Linked DNA regions of Homo sapiens: region 2 is linked to region 1. The links come from fine-mapping of genetic effects on gene expression. A gene starts in region 1. The other region holds a variant in brackets. All regions are shown on one strand. Distances are from middle to middle. Region 1 holds the start of ERP44 (endoplasmic reticulum protein 44). Region 2 overlaps ERP44 (endoplasmic reticulum protein 44).

Evidence for each region. PIP is the estimated chance that this variant, and not a neighbour inherited with it, causes the effect. A credible set is the group of variants that fine-mapping cannot tell apart.
Region 2: its variant is the best candidate, but not a certain one, in a credible set for the expression of ERP44 in whole blood (INTERVAL, PIP 0.58).

What each region holds. Positions count from the first base shown.
Region 1 is chr9:100,097,717-100,100,629 of GRCh38, forward strand. ERP44 (endoplasmic reticulum protein 44) reads right to left here and starts at 1,284. Exons shown (of 12, transcript NM_015051.3): 1 at 1,068-1,284. The coding sequence starts at 1,124. INVS (inversin) reads left to right here and starts at 1,527. Exons shown (of 17, transcript NM_014425.5): 1 at 1,527-1,700. RefSeq lists enhancers at 1,131-1,200, 1,211-1,350 and a silencer at 1,591-1,800.
Region 2 is chr9:100,019,310-100,022,222 of GRCh38, forward strand. It overlaps ERP44 (endoplasmic reticulum protein 44), which reads right to left. Exons shown (of 12, transcript NM_015051.3): 5 at 2,733-2,913; 6 at 1,307-1,422. All of the region lies in intron 2 of LOC105376176 (a long non-coding RNA gene), which reads left to right. Among named protein-coding and RNA genes, the nearest start is that of ERP44, 78 kb to the right of the region's middle. The variant A/G (reference allele first, on the strand shown) is at 1,432.

The DNA of each region.
Region 1 (2,913 bases):
AAGAACTATTTCAAACACAAATATTAAACATTTAATGGGATATGGCGGAATAAGCACTGGAAGTCAAGAGACTTGTTTCTAATCCCAGCTCTGCCTGTAACTAGCTGTGTGACTTCATATGCGTCACTAAATCGTTTCTTAAATTGTAAAGAAAGTAGTTCTTAATGTTTAAATCTGAATTTCTAAAAATCTACTACAATTAAGGTACTTTCAAATATTACATTATAATTAACAGCCCAATTAAATATAAGCCATTTTGCCATACGTGTTTAGTCCTTCGCTTTTGTCTCAATTTGACCTGAAGCCTGGATCAATTAGTCTGCACACTCAAGACGTACTCTGGGGCAAGAGGGACTAGGGAAAGATTCTTTTAAGATGGGATGATGCTGAGCAGGTTAGGCAGTTAGGAATGAATGCATATTCAAATAAGGCGCAATGAAGAAGAAATCTGCTTCCATGGGGAAATACGTTGCAATAAGATTTGAGGGAGGCCTTGAGCTGAGATTGTCAGGTAACCACACCTTCCACCCTTCAAACTCTATTCTCCCAGTGGAATCCAAACCAGTCTCCAGTTCCGGGTTCCCAACCAATCGCATCAAGCCACAACAGAGGGATCTGCCAACCCGGGCACCGCTTCAGGGATCTAGACCCAGTGAGAGTCACACAACCCCAGCACCTGTCGACCTCACACTCTTCCCAAATGGAGAGGGTGGGAAGGAACGCTAGGTCTATGCTTGGTCTTTTCCGATTCAAGCTACCACCAGGTCCACTAGCCCTCGAAACCGAAACCCCCGGACTTCGGGGAGAAGGGGAAGCTCCTACGCCGTGACTACGTATCAGTCCCTCAGGGCTAATTCTCCCATTCTCCCCCGACACTGGTTTCTCAGGCCTCGGGGACTCCGCGCCTGGAAGCCGACAGGCGAGAGTGAGGGCAGCGGGGGAGGGTGCACTCCAAAACACTGCAGGAAAAGACGGAAAAGCAGGGGCAGGAGTAGCAGTGTTCCCCCTGGGCGAGGGCCGGAGGCCGTTCGTGCGTTTGTCGATGGGTCTGTCATTCCCTCACTCACCAGGAGCAGAAGGGAGCATCTGAGGTCGGGTAAGGATAGGAAGACGGCAGGATGCATGGTAACGCTGGGGTCCGTGACAGGGACAGGCGCTGGCGGCTGGGACTGGGCTAGGTTGGGTTGGGTTAGGAAAGGGCTGGGCTCCGGGAGCCGACGGCAGCGGAGGATTCTCCAGGCAGCGGCACCTCGTCCTCTCGACCCGGGCTCCAGCGGCGAACACCCGGGACAACTTCCAGAGAGGCCTCTCACACCCTCACTTCCGGGTCCTGCCCACCTCGGTGCACTTCGGGAAATGTAGTCCTGCACTAGCCTCACCCCGCACGTCGTCCGTCATCTAGAACTTCCTTTCCCATTGGGCTCTCGGCCCCGGTCCACTGAGTCCTCTGCGCGCGGGGTCCTGTGGGATAGAAGGGCGGAGGGCGGGTGTACGCGGTGCTTCAGAGGATGGGAACTACAATTCCCAGAAGGATGTGCGGCCGAAAGCCTCGGGCGGCCTTTTGAGGGGCTCGGCTAGCTTCAGCGCCGTGGGGTCTGACCTGGCTGGATATAGTGTACCGGCCCGGCAGGAGGGGCGGCCCGGTCCGGGTTGCGCCTCCTGGAGCCGCCCCCGGGACGTCAGTCCTGGAGGAGGCGAGGGTGAGTAGGAGGGGGCCTGGCTGGGGAGGCTCAGATCATTCGGTCCGCACCGCCTTGGCCCCTGCTGCAGACTCACGGCCTTCCTGGCCTAGGCTGTGGCCTGAGCCTCCATCATTGGCCTCCTCGCCCGCTGCCTCTTCTTTCTGCTCTAATTCCTGCATTATAAAGTCAGAGCCACCACTCGGGGCCTCAGTTGAATGAGTCAATGACTTATCCCTGATTGTCTCTGAGGGCTCCTGTAAGGAGTAGATGTGGTACGGGATGGGATAGCACGTCGTAAACTGGAAAACTGTGTGAGTGATTGCTGCTAAGGCGTGGATCGCTCCTCCAGTATAATTACGAAATTCCCTAGCAAAGCAGTCGAGGATCCTAACTTGGCCCCAGGTAGCTCTGCGGCTTCTTCTGCAAACACTCAGTGAGGTCCAGGAGCCCACGCGATCTCTGCTTAGTACCCAGGAGGCACACTGTGCTTTTGTGGTTCTCCCTGCTCCCGCCTTTGCTTCAGCTTTCCTGCTGCCTGGAATGGCCTTACCCGTTCTCTCTCTGGAATGCTATCTTAAATGTCACCATCTCTGAGAACTTCCCGAACAACCAACCCTTTAGTCCTAATCAGAATTACTCTTCCTATGAGTGTGACTGCAGTACCTCTAGTTTTGTACGGTTATAATTATTAGAGCATTTATTACACGGGCTTGTTGTATAATTAGGCAAGGATGATGACACCTTTGCATTTTATAGCACTTTATCAAAGTGGTTTTGACTTTTTTCTATAAAAAATGATTTATTTTCTTAAAGGGGCAAAAAATACATTTTTTCTTAAGAAAAAAAAAGAGCCCTGCATAATGGCTTTCTCAGGGTGACAAAATTAGACAGTGATAGAGCCAATACTCTTACCAAGGCGGCCTAACTCCTAGACTAGTGCTCCTATCTCTTGTCCACGCCCCTGACAGAGCCCAAAGATAGTTGAAATGGGAAATTTTAAAAGAGCAGAGACTTGTAAGTATGAACTCATTATTCAAGAAATTAAACTTTGATCCTGCTCACTTTTTGGACTTAGCACTCAGCCTGTGACCTTTCATCCAACAAACATCTACTGAGTACTGGCTATATACCTGTTACTGTGCTAAGTGCTAAGAATTATGAAGTAAAAAGTATATATATATAATATATATAATATATGTACATATAATATATATAATATATGTATATATAA
Region 2 (2,913 bases), 78 kb before region 1:
GACGTGGGAGGATCACTTGAGGCCAGGAGTTCAAGACCATCCTGGGCAACATGGTGAGACCTCAATCGCTTAAAAAACAAAAAACTGATAATGCGCACAATAAAACATACAAACAAAATCTCACAAAAGCATTAAAGCAAGGACAAACAATAAAGGTCAAAAAATGGAGAGGATATATTGTGCCAGACATCCAGGCTCCATTCAAGATAGCTACTACAGTTAAGCCTAATAGTCATGAGCCAATGAAAAGAGAAATAATACTGCATGGAAGTCAAAGGATGGTTGAGATAACCTCCAATGAGGAGAGAGGGTCAAGAACAGAACCACAAAAATGATTCCATCTTGAGAAAAAGAAAAAAAAAAGGGAGATAAAGTCACAGAATTCAGACAGGTAGGGAGCAAACCAGGGGGATTCAATGTAAGTGTTGACACAGCAAAAAAAGAAAAAGGTAGTTGAACATCACACCCTTCAGAGGAATTGAAAAGGAGTAAGATGTTTAAAAGGCCACTCGATTTGGTAATTAAGAAGTCATTTTGTGACTGTGTAGAGACAAGTTTCATTAGAGCAATGGAGGTGAAAGTTAGCTTCCAAAAGGTTAAGTTTTTTACTGGTTAGAATTTAAGAAAATCAAGGTAGCCAGGCATAAACTAATCTTTGAAAAAAATAAAAAGAAAAAGAAAGGTGAAATTATAGCTTAAGAGAAGAGGCAGGTCAGGAAAGAAAGAAGCGTGTTTTCAGAAAAGGAAAGCAGTTCTTGAAAAGGGTCAGGTTGAAAACACAAGCAGGAACAACTGATGGATCAAAGCCCCAGAGGAGTTTGAAGGACACCAGTTACAAGGACATCAGTGAAGAGGTTAGCCTTAGAAAGAATTGTTCCCCTGAGACAGGGAAGATCTATAAAAAAAGGTGGTGGAGAGATGGAGATGAATGAAGACGATAAAACTCATGCTTCTTAACAAGAAAGACAGTGTGTTGTTTCACTGTGGTTACCCCACAGATTAGCATTTTGTCTGACATAGGGTAAGAGTTAGTAAATGAGTTGAATAAAAGCATGAATTAGTTAATTGTTAACTTGTCCATTTTTTCCCTCTTGCCCACATTCTGAAATAGATAATACTACAGAAAGAAAAACAGACTTTTAAAACCTTAAAAAGAATTCAGAGACAGGTATAAAGACTGTTTAGTGATTTTAAAAGGATTGAGATCATTTTTGGAAAGATCATCTTCAGGAAATGACCAAATACAACAGCAATTTAACATGGCAGCCAACCAACCCACTAACACACTTTTAAATAAGATACTTACCCAAATGCAGAAAGAAAGGCACAGTCATCATGCAAAATATTCGCTACTCGTTCAAAAACTCTATAGTTGTCCGAGTCCTTTTGCTCAAAATATCCAATGATATTTCTTTTGCTGCGCTGTAAAAT[A/G]AAGTATGCAATTATTTTGCAAACATACATAGTTTTATAAACATGTTATTTCATTTACCCGTTATCTTAGTACCTAAACAAGTCCAGTCATTGTTCAAATGAAGTATGACTATAAATGCATATTTAGTTTTTAACACCTAGTCCAAAACTGTTAAAGATTACATTGGGTTGAAAACAATCTTAACTATAATAAATACAATCATAAACATTTCCTTCCAGCGTTCAAAATTCTTAAGAAATAGATAACTATTTGATCAGTGACAATCTTTTCCTAAGTAAGGGGACTAATTCTAAAATGTGTTAAAACAATGTATCAATCATAACTTGTGACTGTTGGAGAGACTCCTCCATGGCTCTCTCACACTCCTACCCATCTTACTGGGTACACCAAAAAATGCAAGACCCTGACTATCCTTTATCCAGGCCATTTCTCAGAGTTGTGCTTGTAGCGAGCAACACGGAAATACGAGGTAATGCCTCTAGCCAGGACAAATAGCAGGGTTACTGCTTGCTCTGAAATAGTGAGTTCCCCAAGCCCAGTGTCCCTTTCCTGTGACATAACCCAGTGCATGTGCAGGTATCCATCTGGGGAGCCCTCTGTATTGCCTCCATAGGATTTGGAGGGCAAGGAAACAAATGCAAACATGCTCACACTACTTGCTGTGATGTGAGCAATAAAGTCCTTTGTCTCTGACCCAGCAGTCTTGTGTCTTCTAAAAGAATCCATGAAATGGTAATTGGTTAGCTTAGCTTGCAAGTAGGGTAAAGTCAAATCTCAAACCTGACAGTGATGATTGGTGATTGTGATAAAGCCCAAACTCAATTGTTTTTGCTTTTGTTGTTTGTTATCTTTAAAACACTACCTAGTGTACAAAGAAAGGGGTGTGCTAAACTTATTATTAAGAAGAGGCTATTTAAGAGGACATTAAAACTCATAAAAAGAGCTCATACAAAAGTAATTAGAGCAGACACCCTGAAGCTCTCCACAAGAAAAATACAGAAGCTCTGGTTGTATATACTTGACTTTTAACTTCCATTTCTTTATAATTGAGGCTTTCCTTTGTGCTCAATTAATTCAAATTAGTACAGCTTTACTGCATGCTATATCTTTTATCCAGAAGTTCAGTATAACATAAGCATTTGCCTTGAGATTAATTCAAAAAAATTCAACTCATTAAGTATACGTATGTCAAATCCACTGCAATAGACTATAGGAGAATGTCCAGATTTTTTGTTTGCATTAGAATTTGTTTACATTAATCAGGGAATGTTTGTTTAATCTAGCAAAAGTTACAACTTACATCAAGAGTGGTGATTTCTGCTAAGTCCCGAATTTCTTGAATGGGGTCACTTTTTTGTTGCCTGATGTAATCTGCCAATGCTTTCACTGATCGCTGACCCCTGTATTCTCTCTTCATCATCATCCCATTACGAAACAATTTGAGGGTTGGGTATTTGCTTATCCTGTATCTCTGGGCTATG